Linked DNA regions of Homo sapiens. The protein of the gene in region 1 interacts with the protein of each later gene in a pairwise test. Each region holds a gene or a part of one and is shown on either strand. Other genes may lie near its edges. The genes, in order: PHYH, KLHL20, MALT1 and LHX6.

The links.
Region 2: the proteins of PHYH (region 1) and KLHL20 interact in binary tests that used the Homo sapiens proteins (3 or more experiments, as listed by UniProt).
Region 3: the proteins of PHYH (region 1) and MALT1 interact in binary tests that used the Homo sapiens proteins (3 or more experiments, as listed by UniProt).
Region 4: the proteins of PHYH (region 1) and LHX6 interact in binary tests that used the Homo sapiens proteins (3 or more experiments, as listed by UniProt).

What each region holds. Positions count from the first base shown.
Region 1 is NC_000010.11:13,290,047-13,297,071, reverse strand, and holds part of PHYH (phytanoyl-CoA dioxygenase, peroxisomal isoform a precursor), read left to right. Parts: intron 1-1,465; coding exon 1,466-1,576; intron 1,577-2,475; coding exon 2,476-2,644; intron 2,645-5,159; coding exon 5,160-5,241; coding exon of another isoform or gene 5,242-5,247; intron 5,248-7,025. UniProt on the Homo sapiens protein: Catalyzes the 2-hydroxylation of not only racemic phytanoyl-CoA and the isomers of 3-methylhexadecanoyl-CoA, but also a variety of other mono-branched 3-methylacyl-CoA esters (with a chain length of at least seven carbon atoms) and straight-chain acyl-CoA esters (with a chain length longer than four carbon atoms).
Region 2 is NC_000001.11:173,731,976-173,739,000, forward strand, and holds part of KLHL20 (kelch-like protein 20), read left to right. Parts: intron 1-1,737; coding exon 1,738-2,311; intron 2,312-7,025. UniProt on the Homo sapiens protein: Substrate-specific adapter of a BCR (BTB-CUL3-RBX1) E3 ubiquitin-protein ligase complex involved in interferon response and anterograde Golgi to endosome transport.
Region 3 is NC_000018.10:58,674,449-58,681,473, reverse strand, and holds part of MALT1 (mucosa-associated lymphoid tissue lymphoma translocation protein 1), read right to left. Parts: intron 3,865-7,025; exon of another isoform or gene 3,828-3,864; intron 1,003-3,827; exon of another isoform or gene 898-1,002; intron 305-897; coding exon 138-304; intron 1-137. UniProt on the Homo sapiens protein: Protease that enhances BCL10-induced activation: acts via formation of CBM complexes that channel adaptive and innate immune signaling downstream of CARD domain-containing proteins (CARD9, CARD11 and CARD14) to activate NF-kappa-B and MAP kinase p38 pathways which stimulate expression of genes encoding pro-inflammatory cytokines and chemokines.
Region 4 is NC_000009.12:122,225,953-122,233,213, reverse strand, and holds the start of LHX6 (LIM/homeobox protein Lhx6), read left to right. Parts: upstream 1-4,256; 5' UTR 4,257-4,473; coding exon 4,474-4,557; intron 4,558-4,780; exon of another isoform or gene 4,781-4,856; coding exon of another isoform or gene 4,857-4,907; exon of another isoform or gene 4,908-5,414; intron 5,415-5,672; exon of another isoform or gene 5,673-5,733; coding exon 5,734-5,805; intron 5,806-6,183; coding exon 6,184-6,366; intron 6,367-6,716; coding exon 6,717-6,838; intron 6,839-7,261. UniProt on the Homo sapiens protein: Probable transcription factor required for the expression of a subset of genes involved in interneurons migration and development.

The DNA.
Region 1 (7,025 bases):
TTTTCTTTTTTTCATATAGTGTCTTGGTTTTACATAATTGTAATAATATTTTATTATAATAAGCATTGTCCATACTATTTTTTATTTTATTATATTTTATTATATTTTATTTTATTTTGAGACCGAGTCTGGCTCTGTCGCCCAGGCTGGAGTGCAGTGGTGCCATCTTGCTTCACTGCAAGCTCCGCCTCCCGGGTTCACGCCATTCTCCTGCCTCAGCCTCTCCAGTAGCTGGACTACAGGCGCCAGACACCATGCCGGGCTAATTTTTTGCATTTTTAGTAGAGGCGGGTTTCACCGTGTTAGCCAGGATGGTCCCGATCTGACCTCGTGATCCGCCCACCTCAGCCTCCCAAAGCTAGGATTACAGGCATGAGCCACTGTGCCCGCCATCCATACTATTATATGGCCTTAATTTTTAATGTCTGAGTCATATTCCACTGAGTGAACATAGTGTCACTAGTTAATTTTTCTTCCACTAATGCACTTTTTTTTTTTTTTTTTTTTCTGAGATGGAGCCTTGCTCTGTCACCCAGGCTGGAGTGCACTGGTGCAATCCTGGCTCACTGCAATCTCCACCCCCACAGGTTCTAGCGATTCTCCTGCCTCATCCTCTTGAGTAGCTGGGATTACAGGCACGCTAATTTTTGTATTTTTAGTAGAGATGGGGTTTCATCATGTGAGTCAGGCTGGTCTCGAACTCCCGACCTCAGGTGATCCACCTGCCTCAGCCTCCCAAAAAGCTGGGATTACAGGCATGAGCCACTGTGCCCGGCCCACTAATGCACTTGTTTTGGTGACATAAAGCGTAAGTTTTCAGATTATTTCCTTGGTCTTAGAAATGCTGAATTGAAGAGCATGAACGTTTCCTAGGTTCTTGTTTTTGTCTTTGTTTTTGTTTTTTGAGACGGAGTCTGGCTCTGTCGCCCAGGCTGGAGTGCAGTGCCATGATCAGAGCTCACTGCAACCTCCGCCTCCCAAGTTCAAGCGATTTTCCTGCCTCAACCTCCCGGGTAGCTGGGATTACAGGTGCCCACTACCATGCCTGGCTAAACTTTGTGTTTTCAGTAAACATGGGGTTTCACCATGTTGGTCAGGTTCGTCTCAGACTCCTGACCTCAGGCGATCCACCTGCCTCGGCCTCCCAAAGTGCTGGGATTATAGGCATGAGCCCCCACGCCTAGCCTCAGGTTCTTGATACATATTTTTAGGATGTAATTTAAATTTTTTTTTTTTTTTTGAGACAGGGTCTCACTCTGTCGCCCATGCTGGAGTGGAGTGGCACAACCAGTATTTTTTGTAGAGACAGGGTTTCATCATGTTGCCTGGGCTAGTCTCAAACTCCTGACCTCAAGTGATCCACTTGCCTCGGCCCGCTAAAGTGCTAGTATTAGAGGTGTGAGCCATTGTGCCTAGCCTGTAATTTAAAAATGTAACTTATTTTGGGATTCTTTTTCTCCTTTAGGTATACTCTGGATAATAACGTTCTAACCCTGGAACAGAGAAAATTTTATGAAGAAAATGGGTTTCTAGTAATCAAAAATCTTGTACCTGATGCCGATATTCAACGCTTTCGGTACAGTAACACTATTTGTTATTTTACAATAGTATGTATTGTGTGCATGTAATGAGAATACAAGGTGGATTCGCTCCTGGCTTTACAGATGTTTTTTAATGATTTGGTTTGTTGGGAAGTGTTTAGAAGCATGGGCTCTGGTGCCAGACTGGCTTTTTATTTTTTATAGAGAAAGGTTCTCACTCTGTTGTGTAGGCTGAGTGCAGTGGTGCGATCATAGCTTACTGCGGCCTCAAGTTCCTGGGCTCAAGCAATCCTCTTGCCTCAGCCTCCTGAGTAGCTGGGACCACAGTTGTGCACCACCATACCCAGCTAATTTTTTATTTCTTTGTTTTTAGAGACAGGGAGTCTCACTATGTTGCCCAGGCTGGTCTTGAACTCCTGGCCTCACCCTCCTGAGTTGCTGGGATTACAGTCGGGAGCCACCATGCCTGGGCTTCAGTCTCAGCTCCACCACTTAATATCATGTGTCCTGGGGCAATTTACTTCACATCCCATGCCTCTGTTTCCTCATCTGTAAAATGGGGATAATAATAGCACTTATGTCCTAGTGTTGTTATTAGGACTAAATACGGTGAAATATATGGAAACCACTTTGAAGAGAGCTGGGCACATGGTAAGTGTTACAGAAATGTTTGCTGTTATTATTATTACAATGTAACCAAATTATAAAAAGACTTCCCTACTGGTATGCTAAACTAGGGAATAATTTAATTCTGGGAATGGATTCTAGCCAGACAGTTTCTCCTCCCTTTCATTGGAATTATTCTACCTCAAGCTGGAGGCCAACTTAGTGCAGAGAAACCACCCCTCAAGTCTGCAACCCTTTCCACAGAGGAGGGCAGGGCAGGTGCTTGGAGCCAGCGGTAACGACATCATTTGCAAATTAAATTTTCTAGGAATGAGTTTGAAAAAATCTGCAGAAAGGAGGTGAAACCATTAGGATTAACAGTAATGAGAGATGTGACCATTTCGAAATCCGAATATGCTCCAAGTGAGAAGATGATCACGAAGGTCCAGGATTTCCAGGAAGATAAGGAGCTCTTCAGATACTGCACTCTCCCCGAGGTCAGAGACCACCCTTGCTTTGCGTCGGCTTAATTGCCAGTGTGTATGTCTGCCTGTAAAACCCGCTGATTTGGCCGGGCGCAGTGGCTCACTCCTGTAATCCGAGCACTGTGGGAGGCTGAGGCAGGTGGATCGCTTGATCCCAGGAACCACTGCTCTTAGAGCTGGATATGGAAAGGAGTTGAATTGAGTAAAATCAGTGGGTTTTATTTTGTTTTCTTTTCTGGAGACAGAGTCTCGCTCTGTTGCCCACGCTGGAGTGCAGTGGTGCGATCTCGGCTCACTGCAACCTCTTCCTCCCAGGTTCAAGTGATTATCCTGCCCCAGCCTCCCAAGTAGCTAGGTTTACAGGTGCCTGCCACCACACCTGGCTAATTTTTGTATTTTTAGTAGAGAAAGGGTTTCACCATATTGCTCAGGCTGGTCTCGAACTTCTGACCTCGTGATCCACCCACCTCGGCCTCCCAAAGTGCTGGGATTACAGGCATGAGTCACTGCGCCTGGCCAGTGTCCTACATTTCTGAAGAATGGGACCAGTATCTGGTGGTCTATGCCATGATTTTAGGAGGTATAAATTATTTTAATAGATATTTATTTTTAAATGTATTGGAAAAAAACTCAACAGTCTACCAAACTCATGATTTCAAAAATGTTGTTAATTAGGACAAGATTAAATAAAAAGGCCAGGCGAAGTGGCACTTTGGAAGGCTGAAACAGGAGAATCACTTGAGGCCAGGTGTTCAAGACCAGTCTGGCAACATAGTGAGACCATTGTCTATATTGGAAAAAAAGAAAAAAACAAAGATTGAATAAGAGAAGTGAGCTAACTGCCGGGCGCGGTGGCTCATGCCTGTAATCCCAGCACTTTGGGAGGCCGAGGTGGGCAGATCACGAGGTCAGAAGTTTGAGACCAGCCTGAGACACATGGTGAAACCCAGTCTCTACTAAAAATACAAAAATTAGCTGGGCATGGTGGCGGGCGCCTGTAATCCCAACTACTCAGTAGGCTGAGGCAGGAGAATCGCTTAAACCCGGGAGGCAGAGGTTGCAGTGAGCCGAGATCATGTCATTGCACCTAGCCTGGGCAACAGAGCGAGACTCCATCTCAAAAAAAACAAAAACAAAAACAAAAAACAAAAAACAAGTGAGCTAACTAAGGGTAGGGAAATCATTGGCTAAATAACAGTACAAGTTATGTCAGAAGTTGTGAGGATGGCTCTTGAATGGCTGGCATTTAGAAAATCCCAGCCTAGATGAATACAAAAAAATACCAGGCTTTATAAAAAGCAAGTGTGTGCCTGACTGCTAGGCTTTTAATAACCTTTCCAGGGTTTCATACTCAAATTGCCAATATTCCTTATACACAAGAGATCAAAAAGTGAGGAAGCAGTAGAAGGTGGCTTATTTTTTGGAGTCTTTTTTTTGCAGAATCAAAATTTGAATATCATGGGTTGTTTTATTTTCTTCTTCTTCTTCTTTTTTTTTTTTTTTTTTGAGACAGAGTCTCACTCTTGTTGCCCAGGCTGGACTGCAGTGGTATGATCTCAGCTCACTGCAACCTCTGCCTCCTGGGTTCAAGTGATTCTCCTGCCTCAGCTTCCCAAGTAGCTGGGATTACCGACGTGTGCCACCATGCCCGGCGAATTTTTGTATTTTTAGTAGAGATATGGTTTTGCCATGTTGGCCAAGCTGGTTTTGAACTCCTGACCTCAAGTGATCCGCCCGCCTCGGCCACCCAAAGTGCTAGGATTACAGGTGTGCGCTAACGCACCCGACCTCAGTGTTGAGCCCTTTCTGCTTTTTCCCTCTCCGTTGCTGGGTTCTGTACACAAGGTAGCGGCAGCCCAGCTCCCAGGCCCCACGACTAAACCAGCTCTCCCTGTCACGGTTCCCCATGTTAGCCTTTTCTTCATAATGCAGTGTCCCTCGGCCACTCTGACCCATGTCATTACTGGGTTAACATTTTTCATCTAACTCCTGGGACCTGCTTTGCTTGTTCACTCTTGCTTCCCCATTTCCCGTCACCTCCTGGTTCCCAGATCTCAGTAATGAGTTGTCAAGTGCCAAGCGTCCCCGATTGTCAAATGTCCTCCAAGCCACCATTCTGCTTTCTTCCGGGCTATTCATGACAGCTGTGAATTGTATGGGACTCTTCGTATGCAGAGGCTCCAATGAGGAAGAGGAAACTGCCCTCCCACTGAGCAACCTTCTGTTGCTTGGGTTGACAAGAAAGCTATATTAATATCTCATCGGAACTCCTATGTTTCTTGTAGAGAAAAAATGGTTTCATTCCCAGCTAGCTCAGAAAAAGCCCATTTCATTCCGTGTTATAGATTTAGAATGATTTCCAATGGCTGGGTTTTTCATGCTTTGTTTGCAATGTTGTGAAATACCGCTTGGTTCTTAAACTATTGCCTTCTTGGTTCTTGTGTGGATAGCTACTGTACTTTGTACCAGTTGTCAATACTTCTGATTTCCCACAAGGTTTGTTTTTGTTTTTTTTTTGCTTTCTTAGATTCTGAAATATGTGGAGTGCTTCACTGGACCTAATATTATGGCCATGCACACAATGTTGATAAACAAACCTCCAGATTCTGGTAATTGTAAGGGAGAAGAAAAAAAAATGGTTTCATTAAAATGTGTAAGGTTGGCTGGGTGCAGTAACTCATGCCTGTAATCCCAGCATTTTAGGAGACCAAGGGAGGAAGATCTCTGAGGCCAGGAGTTTGAGAGTGGCCTGGGCAACATAGTGAGGCTCTGTCTCTAAAAATAAAATTTAAAAATATCCAGGCATGGTGGTATGCACTTGTAGTCCCTGCTATTGGAAGGCTGAGGTGGGAGGATCACTTGAGCCCAGGAGTTGAAGGCTGCAGTGAACCTATAATGGCATGCTCTCCAGCCTGCGTGACACAGTGAGACCCTATCTCTACATAATAAATAAAACAAAACAAAACAAAATAATAAAATAGCTGATGTCTAACTGTAATCATGTGTACAACTGTCAAACTTTGGATAAGGAAGTCTTAAAATAACTTACACTATAACAACAGTGAAATGTGGTAATTATTTCAGATATTAACTGTAGGACTGTTGCTGAATTTTCAGATGACTGGCTCCCCAAAAATGCAGTTTAACCGACATAACTGTTCATATATCAAAGGTTCCTGCCATTCGACGTCTCTAAGCTTGATCAGCTCTTTTTAGCTGTGATAGTGTGGATTCTTGCATTCCTGATAGGAAGACATTATTATTACTAACACAATTAAAATTGTTACTATGAGTCACAAACTATAGTGGTCTTTTTTTTTTTTTTTTTTTTTTTTGAGATGGAGTTTTGCTCTTGTTGCCCAGGCTGGAGTGCGATAGCGCGATCTTGGCTCACTGCAACCCCCACCTCCCAGGTTCAAACAATTCCTGATTCTCCTGCCTCAGTCTCCCAAGTAACTGGGATTACAGGCATGTGCCACCAAGCCTGGCTAATTTTTGTACTTTTAGTAGAGACAGGGTTTCGCCATGTTGGTCAGGCTGGTCTCGAACTCCTGACTTCAGATGATCCACCTGCCTTGGCCTCCCAAAGTGCTGGGATTACAGGTGTGAGCCACCGCGCCCAGCCTATAGTTGTCTTTAAAATGTCTTGTGCTTGCTAAAATGTAGAATCTAAGACCTCATTGGCAGACAGACTGATTGAGAAATATAACCCAGGTTTCTGTATTTTAATAACCTTCCTCAAGCTGGGCGTGGATGTGCACCTGTGGTCCCAACTACTCAGGAGGCTGCGGGGGGAGGATCGCTGGAGCCCAGGAGTTCAAGTCCAGAGATTGTAGTGCAGATCACTTGGACTACACTGGGAAATTCCTCTGTGCCTGCAGTAAAAATCAGCCATGAGAGAGTCCCCCTATCCTTTCTGCCTTTTCTTCCTTCTGATCTGCAGGAGGGGTTTATGTGATAGAAGGCAGCTTAGCATTACCAGGTCTCTCCCTCCTTGAGGAGAGCAGGTGTTCGGGAGCCACACTCAGGGAGCAAACCAGGGGAAAATGTCAGTGTGGTCATGGGCACTCCGACTGGACATGGAATGACTATAGTTGTGGGGGGTGAGGACCTCTTAGATAACTTTTTTTATTTTTATTTTTTTTGAAATGGAGTCTTGCTCTGTTGCCCAGGCTGGAGTGCAGTGGCTCAATCTCGGCTTACTGCAACCTCTGCCTCTGGGGTTTGAGTGATTCTCCTGCCTCATCCTCCTGAATAGCTGGGATTACAGGTGCCCACCACCACACCCAGCTAATTTTTTTTTTTTTTTTTTTTTTTTTTTTTTGGTATTTTTAGTAGAGACAGGGTTTCACCATGTTGGTCAGGCTGGTCTCGAACTCCTGACCTCAGGCAA
Region 2 (7,025 bases), on another chromosome or scaffold:
TCACGAGGTCAGGAGATCAAGACCATCCTGGCTAACTCGGTGAAACCCCGTCTCTACTAAAAATACGAAAAATTAGCCAGACATGGTGGCACATGCCTGTAGTCCCAGCTACTTGGGAGGCTGAGGCAGGAGAATCACTTGAACCCAGGAGGCGGAAGTTGCAGTGAGCCGAGATTGCGCCACTGCAGCCCAGCCTCCGTGACAGAGCCAGACTCTGTCTCAAAAAAAAAAAAAACCAGTGTGATGGCATGTGCCTTTAATCCCAGCTACTCAGGAGGACTGCTTGAGCCTAGGAGTTCAAGACCAGCGTGGGCAACTTAGTGAGACCCTCATCTCAAAAATTAAAAAAAATCAATAAGTAAAAAAACCCAGCAACAACAAATGGTAGAATAATCTGAAAAAGAGAGAGATTCTTTTCCTTCTCCCTTCTTGTACCTATTGTTCCTTTTGTCTTGGGATTTCAAAACTCAGGCCAGTGGCATTTAAGCTTTTTTGATATAACCTGCAGTTTACGAGGGGAAGCAGTGATGCGTATCTATACAAATTTGTGTGTGTACATACACACAATTGAACATGCTTAACTAAATGAAATGTATGCTGTTACTTTCTATTTCATTTTTTAATGCTTCTTATGAGGCACTGAATTTTACAACTAAACCTAGTCCCCATTTACAGCACTCTTACCATAGAAAAATGCAAACCTCCAAATAAACTTTTAGATTCAACTTTTAAATACTACTTATTTATAAATTGAAGAATGTCTGTTTATGAACTTATTCACTTATTTTATAATCATACCGAAACCTCAGTGATTCAGACCAATTTGACAGGAGCAATTCAACATATGTAGTACTTTTAAATGAAGCTTATCATATTTAATATCTCTAGATATGAAATTAGACCCAAATTAATCTAACAAAATCTTGACCTGGAGGCTCTTTGGAGTCCTGCTAAATCATCATTTAGCTTGCCATTTTCTTTACTATTTTAATTTTAATAAACTTTGAAGAAAAGATTTCTATATAAAGATAAACTTCAATCCAGACTTTTTTTTTTTTTTTTTTTTGAGACAGAGTCTCTGTCACCCAGACTGGAGTGCAGTGATGCAATCTCGGCTTACTGCAGCCTCTGCCTCCAGGGTTCAAGTGATTCTCATGCTTCAGCCACCCAAGCAGCTGGGATTACAGGCATGTGCCACCACACACGGCTAATTTTTCTGTAATTTTAGTAGAGACAGGGTTTTGCCACATTCACCAGGCTGGTTTCGAACTCCTGGCCTCAAGTGATAAGCTTACCTCAGTCTCCCAGGGATTACAGACATGAGCCACCACACCAGGCCGTCAGTCCAAACTTTTTATATTGTCTTTAATTTGAAATTTAACTATTAATTGAAGCGTGTTAACTTGGGCTTAATTTTTAAAATGGATAAGCATAACCACCTGATCTAAAAGTTTTATTGCTATAGTAGCTCAATTTAAATGGTTTATGTAGACCAGGCATGTTGGCTTATGCCTACAATCCCAGCACTTTGGGAGGTGGAGGCAACAGGATCACTTGAGCCCAAGAGTTTGAGACCAATCTGGGCAACACAGTGAGACATCATCTCTACAAAAAATTTAAAAAAAAAATCACCAAGCTAATTACATTTCCTTATCGCTTGAATTACAAACATTTAAGGGGAGAAAAGAGCTTATAATAATACTGCCATCTTCTCTCTCTCCCCCATCATTCCTATAGGTGTACCAACATTCGACCAGGAGAGACTGGAATGGATGTAACAAGCCGCTGCACCCTTGGAGACCCCAACAAACTGCCAGAAGGGGTTCCCCAACCTGCCCGCATGCCCTATATCTCAGACAAGCACCCTCGACAAACCTTGGAAGTGATTAACCTTCTGAGAAAGCACCGGGAGCTATGTGATGTGGTGCTAGTTGTGGGCGCCAAGAAGATATATGCCCATCGAGTCATTTTGTCAGCCTGTAGTCCCTACTTCCGAGCTATGTTTACAGGAGAATTGGCAGAGAGCCGTCAGACAGAAGTAGTGATCCGAGACATTGACGAGAGGGCTATGGAATTACTGATTGACTTTGCGTATACCTCCCAGATAACAGTAGAAGAGGGCAATGTTCAGACTCTTCTGCCAGCTGCTTGCCTCCTCCAGCTGGCAGAAATACAGGAAGCCTGCTGTGAATTCTTAAAGAGACAATTAGATCCTTCTAACTGCCTGGGCATTCGGGCTTTTGCTGACACACATTCATGTCGTGAGTTGCTAAGGATAGCAGACAAGTTCACCCAACATAACTTTCAAGAGGTGAGTTGCACTTGGTGTTCCAATGCACCCATTTGTTGGAGAGCAATATGGGTTCACATTCTGCTAAATAACACTTGCCTGGGTATTTCCTGCTGATTCTAACTCATAATAGCAAATAAATAAGTTATTATAAATCCTAAACCTGGCTTTTATTTTAGAGGGCAATTTTGTGTTCTACCAGCAAGTTAAGATTTAGGGATTTATTCTCCCTAACTGTATTCATAAAAGTATTTAAAAAAAAATTTTTAAAAAGGTTTATTTATAAGCCAAAATAGAGTAATTCACAAGAGGATCTATGCCTGATAGGATACCTGGTATCATGATTTATATAAGATATTTCCTTCCTGATTATGTGGATTATTCAGAATAAATTATAGATTATAGGTTGTTTGGTAAACTAATAATCTGAAAAGATGAGTTTAGATGTTATCAAAATAATTTTCATTAAACCTATCTTTCCCTTATTTATTTAACAAATATTTGTAAAGCTACTATGTTTCAGCCACTGTGCTTGGGAGCATAGGGTACAATAGTGAACAAGAAATCTAGAGTCTCTGTATTCATGGAGTTTATAATCTAGCAGGGAAGATAATCATTAAATGCTTAATTATACAAATAATTAACTACAGTTAATGGGTGTTACAAAGAAGCAGTCCTGGATGATTTAAGAGTGTATTACAGAGAAATTTAACTTTGGTGCTGGAACAACTTGTGCAAAATCCCAAGACATTAAAAAGCATCACTAGTTTGAAGACCTGAAAAAAACCCAGTGAGACCCAGAGACCAAGGGGGGTAGAGGATGTTACATAGTGATTACACAGAAAGAAGAGGGCTAAATCACACTGAGGTTGATAGACTATGTTAAGAATTTGAGATTGGCCTGGTGCAGTGGCACATGCCTGTGATCCCAGCACTTTGGGAGGCTGAGGCGGGCAGATTGCATGAGCTCAGGAGTTCAACACTAGCCTGGGCAACATGGCGAAACCCTGTCTCTACAAAAAATACAAAAATTAGTCGGGCATGGTGGCGTGCACCCTTAGTCCCAGCTACTTAGGAGGCTGAGGTGGGAGGATGGCTTGAGCCCAGGAGGTAGAGGTTGCAGTGAGCCAAGATCGTGCCACTGCACTCCAGCCTGGGTGAGAGAGCCAGACCAGACCCTATCTCAAAAAAAAAAAAAAAGAATTTGAGATTGATCCTAAGAGTGCTAGAAAACCATTAAAGGGTTTTAAGCAAAGACAAAACATGGTCTGTTTTACAACTTTTTAAAAAATCATATTTTTATTTATTTTGCAGTAAAGTGGTCAGCTCAGGACCATAGTTTTTTTCCCCCTAATAGTTTTTGGAGAACAGGTGGTGTTTGATTATATGAATAAGTTCTTCATTGATGATTTCTGAGATTTTGGTGCATCCACCACCCGAGCAGTGTACACCGTACCCAATGTGTAGTCTTTTATCTCTCACCCACCTCCCACACTTCCCCCTGAATCCCCAAAGTCCATTGTGTCATTCTTACGACTTTGCATCCTCATAGCTTAGCTCCCACTTATAAGTGAGAACATATCATTTTTGGTTTTCCATTCCTGAGTTACATCACTTAGAATAATGGTCTCCAACCAACTCCATCCAGATTGCTGCAAATGCCATTCTATCTTTTTTTTTTTTTTTTTTTTTTGAGATGGAGTCTCACTTGCTCTGTTGCCCACGCTGGAGTGCAACGGGGCTCAATCTCAGCTCACTGCAACTTCTGCCTCCTGGGTTCAAGTGATTCTCCTGCCTCAGCCTCCCAAGTAGCTGGGACTATAGGTACATGCCACCATGTCCAGCTAATTTTTGTATTTTTATTAGAGATGGGGTTTCACCATGTTGGCCAGGCTGGTCTCAAATTCCTGACCTCAAGTGATCTGTGATCTGCTTGCCTCAGCCTACCAAAGTGCTGGGATTACAGGCGTGAGTCACTGTTCCTGGCCAATATATTGTTCCTTTTTATGGCTGAGTAGTATTCTGTGGTATATATACATACCACATTTTCTTTATCCACTTGTTGATTGATGGGCATTTGGGCTGGTTCCGTATTTTTGCAGTTGTGAATTGTGCTGCTATAAACATGCACATGCAAGTGTCTTTTTCATATAATGACTTCTTTTCCTCTGGGCAGTAACCAGTAGTGGGATTGCTGGAACAAATGGTAGATATACTTTTGGTTCTTTAAGAAATCTCCATATACTGTTTTCCATAGTGGTTGCACTAGTCCACATTCCCACCAGCAATGTAAAAGTGTTCCCTTTTCACCACATCCATGCCAACATCTTTTTTTTTTTTTTAATTTTGAAACAGAGTCTCACTGTGTTGCCCAGGCTGGAGTGCAGTGGCATGATCTCGGCTCACTGCAACCTCCGCCTCCCGGGTTCAAGCGATTCTCCCACCTCAGCCTCCCGAGTAGCTGGGATTACAGGGATTTGCCACCACACCAAGCTAATTTTTGTATTTTTAGTAGAGATGGGGTTTCACCATGTTGGCCAGGCTGGTCTCAAACTCCTGACCTCAGGTGATCTGCCCGCCTTGGCCTCCCAAAGTGCTGGGATTACAGGCATGAGCCACCGCACCCGGCCTATGTTTTTATTTTTTAAATTATGGCCATTCTTGCAGGAGTAAAGTGGTATCACATTGTGGTTTTGATTTGCTGATCATTAGTGATGTTGAGCATTTTTTCATATGTTTGTTGGCCATTTGTATATCTTCTTTTGAGAATTGTCTATTGGTCTTTAGCCCACTTTTTGATGGAATTATTTGTTTTTTTCCTTGGTGATTTGTTTGAATTCCTTGTAGATTCTGGATATTAGTCTGTGGTTGGATCTGTAGTTTGCAAACATTCTCTCCCACTCCGTGGGTTGTCTATTTACTCTGCTGATTATTTCTTTTGCTGTGCAGAAGCTTTTTAGTTTAAGTTCCATCTATTTATCTTTGTTTTTGTTGCATTTGCTTTTGGTTCTTGATCATGAACTCTTTGCCTGAGCCAATGTCTAGAAGGGTTTCTCCAATGTTATCTTCTAGAATTTTTATGGTTTCATGTCTTAGATTTAAGTCTTTGATCCATCTTGAGTTGGTTTTTGTATAAGGTGAGAGATGAAGATTCAGTTTCATTCTTCTACATGTGGCTTGCCAATTATCCCAGCACTGTTTGCTGAATAGGGTGTCCTTTCCCCACATTATGTTTTTGTTTGCTTTGTCAAAGATCAGTTGGCTTTAACTATTTGGCTTTATTTCTGGGTTCTCTATTCTTTCCATTGGTCTATGTACCTATTTTTATGCCAGTATCATGCTGTTTTGGTGACTATAGCCTTGTAAAATAGTTTGAAATTAGGTAATGTGATGCCTCCAGATTTGCTTAGCCTTCCTTTGGGTATGTGGGCTCATTTTTGGTTCCATATGAATTTTAGGATTGTTTTTTCTAGTTCTGTGAAGAATGATGGTGGTATTTTTATGGGAATTGCATTGAATTTATAGATTCTCTTGGCTGTATAGACATTTTCACAATATTGATTCTACCCATTCATGAGCATGAGATGTGTTTCCATTTGTTTGTGTCATCTATGATTTCTTTCAGCAGTGTTTTGGTAGAGACCTTTCACTTCTGTAGTGAGATATATTCCTAAGTATTTTATCTTTTTTTTTTTTTTTGCAGCTATTATAAAAGGGGTTGGGTTCTTGATTTGATTCTCAGCTTGGTTGCTCTTCGTGTATAGCAGTACTACTGGTTTGTGTACATTAATTTTGTACCCTGAAACTTTACTGAATTCATTTACCAGTTCTTGGAGCTTTTTGGATGAGTCTTTAGGGTTTTCTAGGTATACAATCATATTGTCGGCAAACAGCGACAGTTTGACTTTCTCTTTAACAATTTGGATGCTCTTTATTTCATTTGTTTGTTTGTTATAAGAGATGAGGTCTTGCTTTGTCCCCCAGCTTTGACCTCCAGGGCACAAGCGATCCTCCCGCCTCAGCCCCCCACGTAGCTGGGACTACAGATGCGCACCATCATGCCCGGCTAATTTTTGTATTTTTCTGTAGAGACACGGTTTTGCCATGTTGCCCAGGCTGGTCTCAAACTCCTGAGCTCAGGCAATCCACCTGCCTCGGTGTCCCAAAGTGTTGGGAGTACAGGCATGAGCCACTGCACCTGGTCCTGGATGCCCTTTATTTCTTTCTCTTGTGTGATTGCTTTGCCTAGGACTTAAAGTACTATGTTGAATAGAAGTGGTGAAAGTGGGCATCTTTGTCTTGTTCCAGTTCTCAGGGGGAATGCTTTCAACTTTTCCTGTTCAGTATAATATTGGCTGCAGGTTTGTCATAGATGGTTTTTATTACCTTAAGGTATGTCCCTTCTATGCCGATTTTCCTGAGCATTTCAATCATAAATTGATGCTAGATTTTGTCAAATGCTTTTTATGTATCTAATGAAATGATCATATGATTTTTATTTTTAATTCTGTTTATGTGGTATATCACAATTATTGACTTGCATATGTTAAACTATCCCTTCATCCCTGGTATGAAACCCACTTGATCATGGTGGATTATCTTTTTGATATGCTGTTGGATTCAGTTAGCTATTATTTTGTGGAGGATTTTTGCATCTATGTTCATCAGGGATACTGGTCTGTAGTTTTGTTTCTTTGTTATGTTCTTTCCTGGTTTTGGTATTAGGGTGATACTG
Region 3 (7,025 bases), on another chromosome or scaffold:
CCTGGGAAAGCAAACAAGGCACTACACATTTACATTTTCCAAAAATACTTAACACAGTTCACCTGGTCAAAAGAGATAATTTCTTCTAAGTTTGGCTCCATGAACTCCTGGAGAATAATCCTAAGAACAAAACCTACCTGGGGGGCTGAGAAGCTGAAGAACTTCAGTGTGTTCCATAGCCTGCAGGAAATCACTCAATTCTGTGACTGTGCAACCTTTTTCACCCATTAACTTCAGCAGACACAGGCTGGGGCTTCCTTCAGGCTCCAGTACCTTAAGAGAACACTGCTCCAGGTCTAGGCAACTGAAAGCAACAGAAAGAATTCAAGTCAACAGCTTTCTTCCACATGATACACCTGCTATATATCTGGACCACGGTGGTGCTGTATGGAATAAATCACAAGTGAGTGGGTGGGTGGTGACAAACTATTCACATAATGAATGCGAGTATCCTTTCCTCCTCTTTCATCACGGGGAATTCCTCTTTATTCCCTTCTCCCACTCAGCTCCCATGATTATTTTTTTTTTTTTTTTTTTTTTTTTTGAGACGGAGTCTCGCTCTGTCGCCCAGGCCGGACTGCGGACTGCAGTGGCGCAATCTCGGCTCACTGCAAGCTCCGCTTCCCGGGTTCACGCCATTCTCCTGCCTCAGCCTCCCGAGTAGCTGGGACTACAGGCGCCCGCCACCGCGCCCGGCTAATTTTTTGTATTTTTAGTAGAGACGGGGTTTCACCTTGTTAGCCAGGATGGTCTCGATCTCCTGACCTCATGATCCACCTGCCTCGGCCTCCCCAAGTGTCCCATGATTATTAAATCAGGAGAATGAGAAACCCAGAAACAGGATGTGAGAGAAATTGAGCCTTGATACTGACAAAGGTTTTTTTGCCTTTAATTTAGGAATGGGGAATAGGAAGGCCAGAAAAATTTCCTTACTCCTTCTTCAAAGATGATGAAATACAAAATGACCCCAAATGAAGCGGATAGAACAATCAGTGTTACAAGGTTAGCAATTGAAAAATACTAAAAATATCCTTAATTACTAGTTTAAATAAATTATGGCATGTATATCAAATGAAATACTGTTAATTCATTAAAAAAACTGAGCCTGAGGTAAAGGCATAGGTCTTTAAGACATACTGAGAAATGAAGGAATTAACATAAAAAACTGTGTATAATACACTACTATTTGTATTAACAAGGTAGTATGTCTATGTGTGTATTCATATGAAAAAAGGAAGATACAGAACAGCGTTTGTTATTACCAAGATCATTTGTGTGTGTTCTTATACATGGAGAGTAAACTCTGAAAAGGTATCTAAGAAACTCGTAGCCATAGTTGCCTCACAGAGGGTAAGACAGTAGAGCTCATGGCTGGATGATCTACTTTTCACTATAACCCCTTTTGTACTGTTGATTTTTTTATGTGCATTTATTTTTTGATAATTTTTTTTTAATAGAGATGCTGTCTTGCTATGTTGCCCAGGCTGGTTTCAAACTCCTGGGCTCAAGCAATAATCCTGCCTCTGCCTCCCAAAGAGCTGGAGCCACCACTCCTGGCTCTTTTGATAATTTTTAAAAAGTATATTTAGAAAGAGAACCAGTACTATTGACATTCAAAGTACTTAGGCTGGGCACGGTGGCTCACACCCGTAATCCCAGCACTGTGGGAGGCCAAGGCACGCGGATCTCATCAAGCCAGGAGTTTGAGACCAGCCTGGCCAACATGGTGAAGCCCCATCTCTACTAAAAATACAAAAGTTAGCCGGTGTGTGGTGGTGCACGCCTGTAGTCCCAGCTACTCAGGAGGCACAAGAATCGCTTGAACCCAGGAGGCGGAGATTGCAGTGAGCTGAGATCATGCCACTGCACTCCAGCTTGGGCGACAGATCGAGACTCGGTCTTAAAAAAAAGAAAGAAAAAAACCAAAGTACTTCTAAGTACCTAGAAATATCCTATTGCAGGGACCATGGCCTGTGGGCCAAATGTGTTCAGCTACCTGATTTCTGTAAATAAAGTTTCACTGGAGCACAGCTACACTCATTCATTCACATATTCACAAATGTCTATGGCAGCTCTCCTGATACAACTGCAGAGCTGAATACCTGGCTGCAAAGCCAAAAATATTTACCATTGGGCCCTCTATGGAAATAGTTTGCTAACCCTTCCTTTAAAGAATGTCTTATTGTCCTTTTATTAAAACTATTCTTTTAAAAATACCAGTATTTAACATACATATACAATTTCCTTTTCCATGTTATTGTGTGCAGTAGTGGTATACCAGATTAGAAAGACAGGTTAAGATCAGATCATAGAAGGCCATGAAGAATGGAACAATGATATGAATTGTAATCATTTTATAGAAGGGGAAAGTACAAGTATTAAACATTCAAGGGGAGACAAAAGAATCAAGAAAAAACCGAGCAATCAACGACAGAAAAACTTTCCCAAAGAAACATAACCAACAACAGCCAACCAAAGTGTTTAGATAATCTGCATGATATACTGTAGAATTCACACCTCATCCATCTTTGCAGATCCTGCTCCTTTTCCTGCCAATTTGAATTACAGTCCCATATTAACTCTAGCTTCTCTACAAGGTCCTCCTAGACCACACCAGTCCACCAAACACACTTTATAGACACAGTCTCCTAACTGCACTTATTTTATAGACAACTGTTTTTCTAAGTGGCCAGCAAGGATATATTTTAGATATTCTGGGCCATAGAGTCTCTATCACACATTCTTCTTTGTTGTTTTTTGTTTTACAATTCGTAAAATACAAAAACCAGTCTTAGATCATGGGCTATATGAAACGGGTAGCAGCCTGGATTTGGGCCTTAAGCAGTCATGTGCAGACTTGTTTCATGTTTTATCTCACATAATTTCACCTTAGAACGGTGAGCTTTTCTTCATGAGCATGAAGAAAAGCTGCCTTATCCAACTAGATTATAGTAAACTCCTTGAAAACAGAAACCCCATCATATTAAACATATATGTGTGTGTATACACACACACACGCAGACATAAAATCCCTCAATACCTAAAATTCTGTCTTGTCCATATTAATTATGCATTAATGAATGATTACTGAATGAATTTCAATCATAATTGTCAAGGCTGAAAGCCTGAACAGATGCAAGAGGTGAAACATAATAGTGCCAGGGTGTGACAGAATCAAGGTTAGCAAACTATTTTATTGCTTGAAATATTAATCCTCATTCATTTTGAGTAGTCTTATGAAGATGCTGTCATAGCATTTATACTGTTACCCAAGATTTAAAATTCAGTGATAATGTTGATTATTTCATATGGAAAAAATGTATACGATCAAATTAATTTCATTAGTAATATTATCTACCTCATAGGGTTGTTAGAATTAAATAGCTAATCCATGTAAGAAGTGCTTAACACAGTGCTTGGCAAGTAACAGACATTCAATAAAGGTTAGCTCTTATTATGCAATAAGAATATGGGGATATTAAAAGAATATTAAAGCTAACTTCTTAACTATGCTTATTTCTGAAACAATTTTAGCTTTTCCTTAAACATTTTTTTGAGTAACTATTATTTTGGTAACCTGAAAATGTCCTCTAAGGCCTCCTGTGATCACTATATTTACTAGGTATTCTTTTCTAAGCATCCTAGTTCAATTTTATTATATTCAATATGCCATTCTTGTTAAATGTGAATCATCATATCACAAGTCAACCAGTCTCAAATTCTGGACTGTAGACCAGTGGCAGCACAATCTGCAGTCCAAGGTAAAATGATAAAAATAAGGACAATAAAGCTGTCTTTTATTCTAAAATTGTCTTTTCCATTTTTAGGTGTTAAAGTGTTCTTTCTTTTAAGAAACAATGGTGACTATGATGACAGAAAACATAAAAAGGTGAAGCTGCCTGTTAGTGCTCTTATTTTGTGAAATTTTATTTTACTAGTTTCTGAAATACCCAAGTGAAAGAACCTGTATTAGAAACAATACAAGGATTACTAATTTTGTAAATAATTAGAATGAGATTTGTAAAAATAGGGATGCTGTATGCTAAATATAATTTTTATGATTCAGAAGTTTACCAGGATCTGATAAATGAAATTAAGAAGCCATCTCATCAAATGCAACCAAGTGATGCTTTAATTAATGTCTATATTGATATAGAGAAAATTAAAAACACTTGGCTTTCCTTCCCCCCCAAAAGAACAAAGATCAAATTGAAGTACAGATGATTTCTCTTCCATTACAAGAGGCACAGGAGAAAAAGAAGACTCTGTATCTCTTTTTGTTTTTACTGATTTTCCGTATGGGCACTGGCTTTCAGCTAAGATGATGCTTATACATACCTAACTTTTCTTTCTTTCCTTTTTAAGTTACATTCCTGTAAGAGTGTGCTTTGAAGTAGTTTCTGAAAGTCCTAATTTAGAATTTTTGATTTAATTTAAAAACTGCTTTATGACTGAAACAAATGTACTTTACTTTTTAAAAATATCTCTATTTTTATCTTTAAAAAAATATATAATCAAATAGAATGTATTATACACCCTTTAGGGGACAAACCATAATGCTGTTTTTAGGTTCTTCTGCTTCTCCTCTTGGTACATTTACTATTTGGAATCTTTATTCATTAATTTGATCTATTTCTCCATCACCTAAAATAGGCCACTGTTTTTTCTAGGTGTTGAGGATACAGCAGCAAACAAAACAAAATTCTGTATCTTCCTGGATCTTTCATTCTAGAGAAGTACAGACATAAATTTAAATAAACACAGAGATATCTTTTTGTGTATGTATCCAACTAACCAATGGTCTTAAGTGTTGTGGAGGTAACGCAAGTAGACAGGTAACACTGAGCAGATGTAGAGGGTAATTTTAAATATTATGATCAGAGAAGAGCTCAGTGAGGTGAACAAGTCATGTGGTTACCTGTGGAGACCATCTCAGCCTGAGTAGGCAGCAAGTACAAAGACTACTGTGTCCAAAGGAAGGCAAGAAAGCACATGTGACCAGAGTAGAGAGGGATGGAGACAAGAAGATATCAGGTTGAAGAGTGAACTGGTAGCTAATGGTGTTTTTACTCTGAGATGGAAAAACAATAGGAGAGTTGGCATTTTTTTTTAATGGGGTCTATCTATGTTGCTCAGGCTGGTTTTGAAGTCCTAGGCATAAGTAATCCTCCCACCCTGGCCTCCCAAAGTGCTGGGATTACAGGTGTGAGGCTACCACGCCTGGCCACAATAGGAGAGTTTTGAGCAGAGGAGGAATAAGACCTGATGTGATGTTTTAAAAGAATAATTCTTACTGCTATATTGGTAACAGACTGGGGTGGGAGCAAAGCAAAACAGGGAGAAGTTAAGTGGCTACTGGAATAATCTAGTTGAGAGACAACGTGGCTTGGCCCAGCGTGCCAGCAGTGGACATTGGATTCTACATATATATAGTGAAGGTACAGCAGGAAGGATGGGCTGACAAAAACGATTTGTGTGTAAAAGTGGAGTCAGGAATGAATTCGAAGTTTTTGGACTGAACAACCAGAGGGTGCAGAAACTGAAAGAAAGAGGTTTATAAGGGAAGACGTGTTAAATTTTGGACATGTTATATTTAAGACGTGTCTTAGTCATTCAAGAGAAGATGGCAAACAAGTGTTTACATACGTGAATCTAGGAGTTCAAAGCAGAGAAATGGGCTGGAAATAGAAATTAGGAGTAATCAACCCAAATAAATGTAAAGTCATGGGACTGAAGGATAAGACCAAGAGGGCGAGAAGGAAACCTTTTTTAGTTTATTTGTTTTAGAGACAAGGTCTTCTCTGTCGACCATGCTGGAGGTTGACAATACCTAAATCAATAAAATTCTGTCTTGTCCATATTAATTATTCATAAATGAATGATTACTGAATGAATTTCAATAATAATTGTTGAGGCTCACTGCAGCCTCGAACTCCTGGGCTCAAGCAATCCCACCTCAGCCTGCAGAGTAGCTGGGACTACAGGCCTGTGCCACTATGCCTGGCTAATTTTTTGTTTTTTTGTAGAAACAGGGTCTCAGTATGTTTCCCAGGCTGGGAGGAAACCTTCTGTTAGAGCCTTTTACACGTTCTCATTCCTATAATAAACTGCATGAAAGCAGGATTTCTGCAGCTAAAAGTGCACCTTCTACTCAGCAGGTATGCAATGACTGTTTTTCCATGGTCCAGGTTCCACAGCCCCATTTCTAAGCTCCCTACTTAACAGAATTTTAGGCAGCATTTAGAACCTCCTGGAAGGTCTGCCATCCTTAGGGCTCAGATGTTCCATGCCACCAAAGAATTTACATAGCTTGGGCAAGACCCTCAGAGTCTGTGTCTATCTACACTAACAGCAAAGGGTGTCCAGGTCAGTCTTGAATGGAATCAGGGCCGGGTCTGACTATAGCACATTCCCAAATGTACATGGTTGTGGGGAACTAAGCTATCAACAAGGATTTACTCTGAGTCATCAGCAATGAAAACATTTACAATTATTTCTAATCTCTTGTAGACAGTTTGAACGGGCTCTTTTCTTGTGGTTTACTTATTTGTATTATTAAATTTTCACCCAGTTTGAGGAAAGATGTAAAGTGTCAGAAAAAAAAGTGAAGAGAAGAAAAAGAAACAGAATGGGCAACATTTCGAGATTCTAGGGCTGCAGATCCAGTGACTGAAGAAAGCACTTCACAGCCTCGTGGGACTTGTCACCCACACGGACTAGACACTCACACTATAATTCCTGTCTTTGGCACCAGAGAAAAAATACCTTTAGGACCTTCTAGTATCACAGATCTTCTCCCAACAGCATGAAATCACTTTACAATAACTTTTTTGTCTTAAATAGAGTAAGCATCCCCAGCTGACCTTGCTTCACTGTCCAGCCCCCAAGCTCCCAGTGCTGTTTTTTGAAAAAAAGTCCGTTTAATTCTTCTGATCTCCATAGGGATGAGCTTAACGTTCCCAAATTCTCCAACCCTTCTCACCCCAGCCAACCTCCTCAAAACTAATCTTTACCATCTTGAAAGA
Region 4 (7,261 bases), on another chromosome or scaffold:
GCTTGGAAGGGGGGTGCTGCCGTGTCTCTTCCCATTGTCCCTTTCTCATTTGTCACAATCTGAATGTTTAAATTTCGTATTTAGTATTTACTCTGAAATGGCTTTCATCTGATTTCCCCCTTGCTCACCAATTTAGCTGTCAAAGTAAATAAATGTGAAGCTGGGTCTCCAGCCTCCCCCAGCTCACATTACCTTCCTAGAATTACTCCCCGGCAGGGTCGAACCATTGCTGGGGGCCTCCCACAGAATTATCCAGTTACTAATGAAGCCTCTTTCAAACTGAACCCTTGGGCCTAGACTCAAATGGGGGAAGATGGCAAAATTCACCCCAGAGGACCAGATGACCACATCCTGTTTAGTGACCGGGAGAAGAACTGCAAAGTGAGAAGATGCCATTATTCATGTAGGGTGCTTAATACAGCTTCAGGGTTGTATAAATGAATAAATCTACAACACTTTAAAAAATATTAGTTCTTTTTTTTTTTTTTTTTTTTTTTTTTTGAGATCGAGTGTCACTCTGTTGCCAGGCTGGAGTGCAGTGGTGCAATCTCGGCTCACTGCAGCCTCTGCCTCCCAGGTTCAAGCAATTCTCCTGCCTCAGCCCTCAGCCTCCCGACTAGCTGGGACTATAGCCACCTGCCACCACACCCGGCTAATTTTTGTATTTTTAGGAGAGACTGAGTTTCACTATGTTGGCCAGGATGGGCTTGATCTCCTGACCTTGTGATCCACCCACCTTGGCCTCCCAAAGTGCTGGGATTACAGGCATAAGCCACTGCACCCAGCCAAAATATTAGTTTTTAATGTATAGTTAGTTGTCACTTCAATTCTGAGAGGTCAGTATCATTATTCCCCGTTTTGCAGGTGAGGAACTGAGGCTCAGAGAAGCTAAGTGACTCAAAGTGACCCACAGTTTGTCATAGGAAGAAATCAAGTATCCTAATGGAAGGTACTATGTTTGCTAATCCTAATTTTGCCAAGGTCACTCCTATCTGGACTCTTTTTCCTGATGGAAAAAGATGGAGTCAGGAGTCATTGGAAGAGAGATTTCTTTTCCAAAGTAATTTCACTTCTGTCCTCTTTGAAGTTAGGCAAGTTCTGGGCTCGAATAATGGTTCTGCATCTTCCTTAGGTAAGTTATTCAGGAGAAGATTTGATTTTTTTTGGTTGATTCATCCCCTGCCTTCATAAAGAATTTGATGTAGTACCTAGTAGAATCACAACCACAAGATTCAGCCGGTCCATTGCCATAATGATGGCTGTTTATCATTTGCTTACTGTGTGCCTGGCATATTTCTGAGCCCTATTACATGGATCATTTGCGTAATTTTCACAACCATAGGAGTTGAACTCGGTTATCCCCACTTTACAGATGAGGAAACTGAGGCTGATGAGTGGCTGAAGAACTTGTCCAGGGTTACCCAAGTAATAAAGTAATAAAGGGAATAGAAAACAGATGCCAAGGTTGGCATCAAGGCCATCTGGCCCTAGAGTCTTTGTGCTTCACTACTGACTTTACTGCCTCTTACTCCAGTTTTTATTATCTGAGCACTTAATCAGAATTCAGGAGCAGAATTGCATAGTAGGTAAGAGTTTGGGTTCTAAAATCTGAGTGCCAGAGCTTCAGATGGGACTCCTGTAAGCTTGTTTCCTCAACTATAAAAGAAAGATAATAATATAACCTTTTTGTAGGGTAGTTGCAAGGATTAAAGAGGATAATGCGTGTAAACAACAAAGGGCTTAGCACATAAATGCTCAATAAATAGTTATTATTGTTATCACTCTAGGAGCACATGCTTCACATTCCCCCTCATTAGAGTGCAGCAGCTTGTTTGTCCAGCCTCTGAACCTTTGTGGTCCTCTCTCTACCTGAAATACTTTCTTCTTCTCCCTGAACCCATCCAAATTTCACCTGCCCTTTAGTTTTAGCTCAAGCCTCTTCCATGGCTCATGTCTAAGAAGTTTTGCAAAGCCAGTACGATCTTCATGGTCTTCTTTCCTGGGGCCCTTCTGCACTCACAAATCTGGCATATGTGCAGCATTCTATAACGTTTATTAACCTTTCAATTCCCCCAGCCACCCAAAGGGGAGGAAGAGAAGGAGGTAAAGCAGGTCCTATTGTTATTCCCATTTTGCCGATGAGAAAACAGGCTGAGCCTATAAGTGGTGAGGCTGGGAGTCACATCCAGGTCTTTTAACAGATAATGTGGAGTGTGTGTGTATGTGTGTGTGTGTGTGTGTGTGCACATGTGTGTGTGCAGAAAGTAAACATGGTCATGTCTGCAGCCTAGAAATCAAGAGTATGAGCTCTAATGTGAGATGAATGTGGTTTTAAGTCCTTGGTTCTGGCAATTAGCCATGTGCACCATTTTGGATATATCACATGAACTCTCTGAACCTCAGTCTCTTGATCAGTAAAACAAGCACGCTGAGAGATGCTACCTCACGGGATTATTGTGAAAAGAAAATGAGATCACGATTGTAAAATGCCTCGTATCATGCCTGGCACAGATTAGTAGCTGTAATAACTGGGAATAATCCCAGTAGTAGCTGAAATTATTATGTGCAAAGGAGATATTTGAGAGGGAGGGGTTGTTCTTCTGTATTCATGTTTGAGAATGCATGTGTATGTGTGTACACATGTGTACCTATGCATACACCTCACCCGCTTTCACATTGCAACTTGTTCTCTTCGTATAAAAGATTAGGGTTCAAAGAGAAACTCTTTTCACTCTGAATTTCTGTGTCTGAGAGCAATGAATGACTGGGATGCAGAGGGCGGGAAATGCCATTAGCTGAGGCTGGGGCTATTTTTGTGTACCTTGATGCCAGTAAAGGAACAGATATTTGTATCTTTGGGGAATATGGGTGTGGATCTTTAGTATCGTGTTGGTGTGCAGGCATCCTCTACTACCTGCGCCTGTCAGAACCTGCCTGTGTGTGTGCAAACTGAGACTATAACTATTGGGAATCTATGGCTGCAGAAGTGTGTGTGATGTGTCTGCCTATAAATGCCTATCAATAGTTGTCTCACCATCTGTAAGGATGTAAGTACATATTTGAGGGTGCCTGAGTAGAGGACATAAGGTTATACATGGGTTTGGAGCTCTGTGAAAATCTGTGCCCTCTTGAGTATGGCTGTGTGTACAAATGGAAGAACAATTGTGTGTGGGGGGGTGTTTACATCTGTAAATGAGGGCAATTATGGAGGTGATGACATGTGTGATGTGGTGAGGGTAGGCTGTCATGGTGTCTGTAGGGCTGGATCTATGTCTGAGTGTGCTTATTTGTTTTTAGATGATGTATGTTTACATGTGTCTCTTTAGGCTCAGTTTGTGTGTGGAGAAGGGGGCTGAGACTCTAAGTGTCCACTTGTGTATGCTGCAGGGCGTTAGTGTGTGTAAGGCTCCATCTTTGGGTTTGAAGGTTCTGTGTCTGTGTGTCTGGGGGCAGTGTCTTCTGTCTAAATGCCTGGGCCTTCCTGCCTTCCCTACCATTCTCATTGTCAGTAGAACCCTAGAGAAGAAGGGATGGGCATTGGACTGTGTGGTTAAGCAAATCCTGAAGGGAAGGGGAATGTGCCAAGCAATCCCTTCCAAGAGAATTCAGGGAAACTACCCTCCCGTTTCACCTCAGTCCCTGGGAGCTGGTGCACTGTCTGGTTCTTATAGAGCAGAGGTATCTGTGCAGGTGTGTGAGAGTAAGTGTGGTGCCTCGTGCCCGTGTAAATGATGTGAACAGGTAATCACTTACATTAGTGTGTACACAAATGTACCAGGCATGGGATTGCATCAACACAGTGTAATAACGTGTGACCTCCTACGGAATCTATCTCCGCAGATGGTATGGCCATGGGTCCCTCCTGTACCTGTGAGTGGGGCAGTGTCTGAGGAAGATGGGTGCCCCTTGAGGGAGGAGCGGTAGTGAGAGCTGGGTGGATGTGTGCCCGCCGGTGCCTTTGTGTACTGGCGTGTCTCCGAGTCTCTCTGTCGGCAGCTCTGAGTTTCTGTGTGTCTCTGTGTCTGTGTGTGTGTCTCTCTCTCTGGGTCTCTGCCTCGTCGTGTGTGTCTTGCTCTCCCTTGGCGGGGAGGGGATTGGTCACGCATGACTCATCTTGAACCGAGCGGGGCTCCAGCGGCAGGGCGGCCGCCGTTGCAGCTGGAGGGGGAGGAGGACAAGGAGGAGGGAGAGGAGGAGGAGGACTACCAAGAGGGGGAGGAGGAGAAGAAGGAGGGGGCGGGGGCCTCTCCAAGTTTGTCGGGACCTTCTTCCGAGGCAGCGGCGGCAGCAGCCAGGGAGGCCGGGGCTGCGCGCGGGCCGGGGGCGGGGGCTGAGGCCGGGCCCGGGGCGGCGGGGCCGGCGCCTCGGCTCTCCTCCTGCTCCTGCAGCAGCCTCTGCTCCCACTGCGGCTGTGGTCCCCCTCGGCGCAGCTCTCCGCGCTGCGCGCCCGCTGAGCCCGAGGTTCCCCGGCCCATGTACTGGAAGCATGAGAACGCCGCCCCGGCGTTGCCCGAGGGCTGCCGGCTGCCGGCCGAGGGCGGCCCCGCCACCGACCAGGTGAGCCGGCGAACGACTGGGTGAGCGGCCCGGGCCGGGGTCGGGCAGGGTCCGGGACCCAGCCGGGCCGAGCAGGGTGGCGGGCGGTTGCAGGAAGGAGGGGTACGAGGGTGCGCCTGTGAGTGTGTGCTTGTGAGTGTGGGAGCGCGCGCGCGAGCGGGGGGGGGGGGTCGCGGAAAGCGGGAACACATTATGCAAATGTTGGAGGAATTTCTCAAAAAGCGATTTAGTAAAGACACAGGCGAATCAAGAGGAGGCGAGGCCGGTATTGTCCGTCTGAATAGGCGCTGATAGCGCCGATGCGCCGGGGGTTGTGCCGGCGCAGCGCTGAGAATCCCGACGCGGGGCCGGTACCCGGCGCGCCGAGGGGCTGGAGGGTGCTTTTTCCTCCCCTTGAGCGCCTCTCTTTTCTCTTTTTGGTCCCGTTTCGCCCCGATCTCGCTCTCTTTTTGCTCCGGGTTTCCCTCCGACTGGCCCTCGAAAGGCGCCTGAATCCGTGTCAATATAGCTGCTTCAATTTCGCCGCGCGTGTCAGGCGGGCGGGCGGGCGGGTGCTCACCGCGCTCGGGGTTTTCTTTTCTTCAACCACCCTCCGCCCCTCACCCATCTCTTTTTTATTTTCTTTCTTTCTCTCTTTTCTCCTTTTTGCATTTTGTGCCGAGAGGAGAAGGGAGCGAGGAAGGGGAGTGGGGTGGGGGGGCGGGTGGAGAGAGAAAAAATTCGATTTTTAATTACTACCATTAAAAAATCAAATTTGCAATTCTTTGGGCGGCCTGATGGATCTCACTGATTGACAGTTGGAATTGACACTCTGGCTACCTCTTATCTTGGGCATTCACGACAATTTCTAATTGCAGGTAGTTTGTGTGTGTGTGCGCGTGTTTTTCTTCCCCCCTCAGAGGCTTGGATTGCAAGGGAACTAAGCGATTACTTCAAGAGCCACGGGTTAAGTGCAGGGAGAGGGGGAGAGAGAGGGAAAAAATCCAATCCAAATTCAAATTGCTTCATTAGAGAGACACCGCTTTTGTGGGGAAGGGCTTTAAATGCCCACTACAAAGTTAGGACTCATTGTTCGGCGCCGGTTTATATAACAGGCGCGGGGAGGCGCTGGGCTCAGGCTGTGCGGAGCCAGTTCAGCAGCCGCCGCCGCCTGCGTTCCCTCCCCCCCTCCCCCAGGTGATGGCCCAGCCAGGGTCCGGCTGCAAAGCGACCACCCGCTGTCTTGAAGGGACCGCGCCGCCCGCCATGGTGAGTCCGTTTGGCCCTGCCTGCGGTGCCCAGTCCTCCAGCGGCCCGGCCCTGGGGACCTGGCCAGGTTTTCCGGCCACGAACTGCTGCTCACGCTCTGGGGGACTCCCGGCGGGCGCCGCCCCTCTCTGAGCCTCGGTTTTCCGGCAGGGAATGTTGGCTTTAACCGCTCCCAGCACCCAGAATGCGCGTGTTAAAAGTTGGGGCCGTCCCTTCCTCTCCAATAGGCCCTTCCATCCCTGTCCTTCAGTCTACGGCGCATTGTCCTGGGGAGATTTCGTTGTCAATTGGTGCTCGGGGGCCCCAGATTTGTCTCCAAGGCAGCCCCAACTCTGGGTGCCCGGATCAGCGCTCCTCTCCTTCTCTCCCCCGCCGCAGGCTCAGTCTGACGCCGAGGCCCTGGCAGGAGCTCTGGACAAGGACGAGGGTCAGGCCTCCCCATGTACGCCCAGCACGCCATCTGTCTGCTCACCGCCCTCTGCCGCCTCCTCCGTGCCGTCTGCAGGCAAGAACATCTGCTCCAGCTGCGGCCTCGAGATCCTGGACCGATATCTGCTCAAGGTGAGACAGGGGTAGGTGTTGCGTGCGTGTTGTCGGGGCGTGGGACGCAGCGCAGGAGACTGCAGGGAAGCACCGCAGGTCCTCTTACTTCCAAATCCTGGCTCCACTGCTGCCCGACTGCGAAGCTTTGGGCAAGACTTAGGGTCTGCCTGAGCCCCCGGGTTCCGTCTGAAAAATAAGAAGAGTTTATTTCCATTTCCCTGAGTCTCAGTATTACGGGAGAAAAATAGGGGAATCGCATGCACCTTCTGAGCTTCAGCGCCTCTGACTGTAAATGAGACCGGGAAGGCTGGGGCCCGGAGTGAAAGAGGCCCGCGCTGAGCCGACCTCCGTCCCCGCCCCGTCCCCAGGTCAACAACCTCATCTGGCACGTGCGGTGCCTCGAGTGCTCCGTGTGTCGCACGTCGCTGAGGCAGCAGAACAGCTGCTACATCAAGAACAAGGAGATCTTCTGCAAGATGGACTACTTCAGGTAGGCTGCGGCCGCCGAGCCAGCAGTGTCGCCGAGGGCAGGCCCCGGGCGCATTCGGAGGCCACTTTTGCGGCGTGTGGTCTCTCCTCCAGAACCCCGGCGTCCCGAGTGCACTTCCGGCGCGCAGCGCTGGTCCAACCTGCCGGCGCTCAGCGGCGCGAACCCAGAGCTCCAGGCAGCGCGCCAGTGCCTGCACAGGTTTGCGCCCCGGATCTGCCTTCGGTCCTCGCGGTCCATTGGGTTTCGGTATCGTCTCTGGCTCTGTCTCGGGTCCTGCCTAAGTCTCAGGCTTCAGTTCTGACCTCGAGCGCCTCGGTGGAGCTCTGAGGTCCCCATTTCTGGCCCGGACCCACTCGGATCCCAGCCGTCGTCCGGCTGCATTTCCAGTGCGTTCGGGCTTCGAGTTCCAACCCTACTCGGACG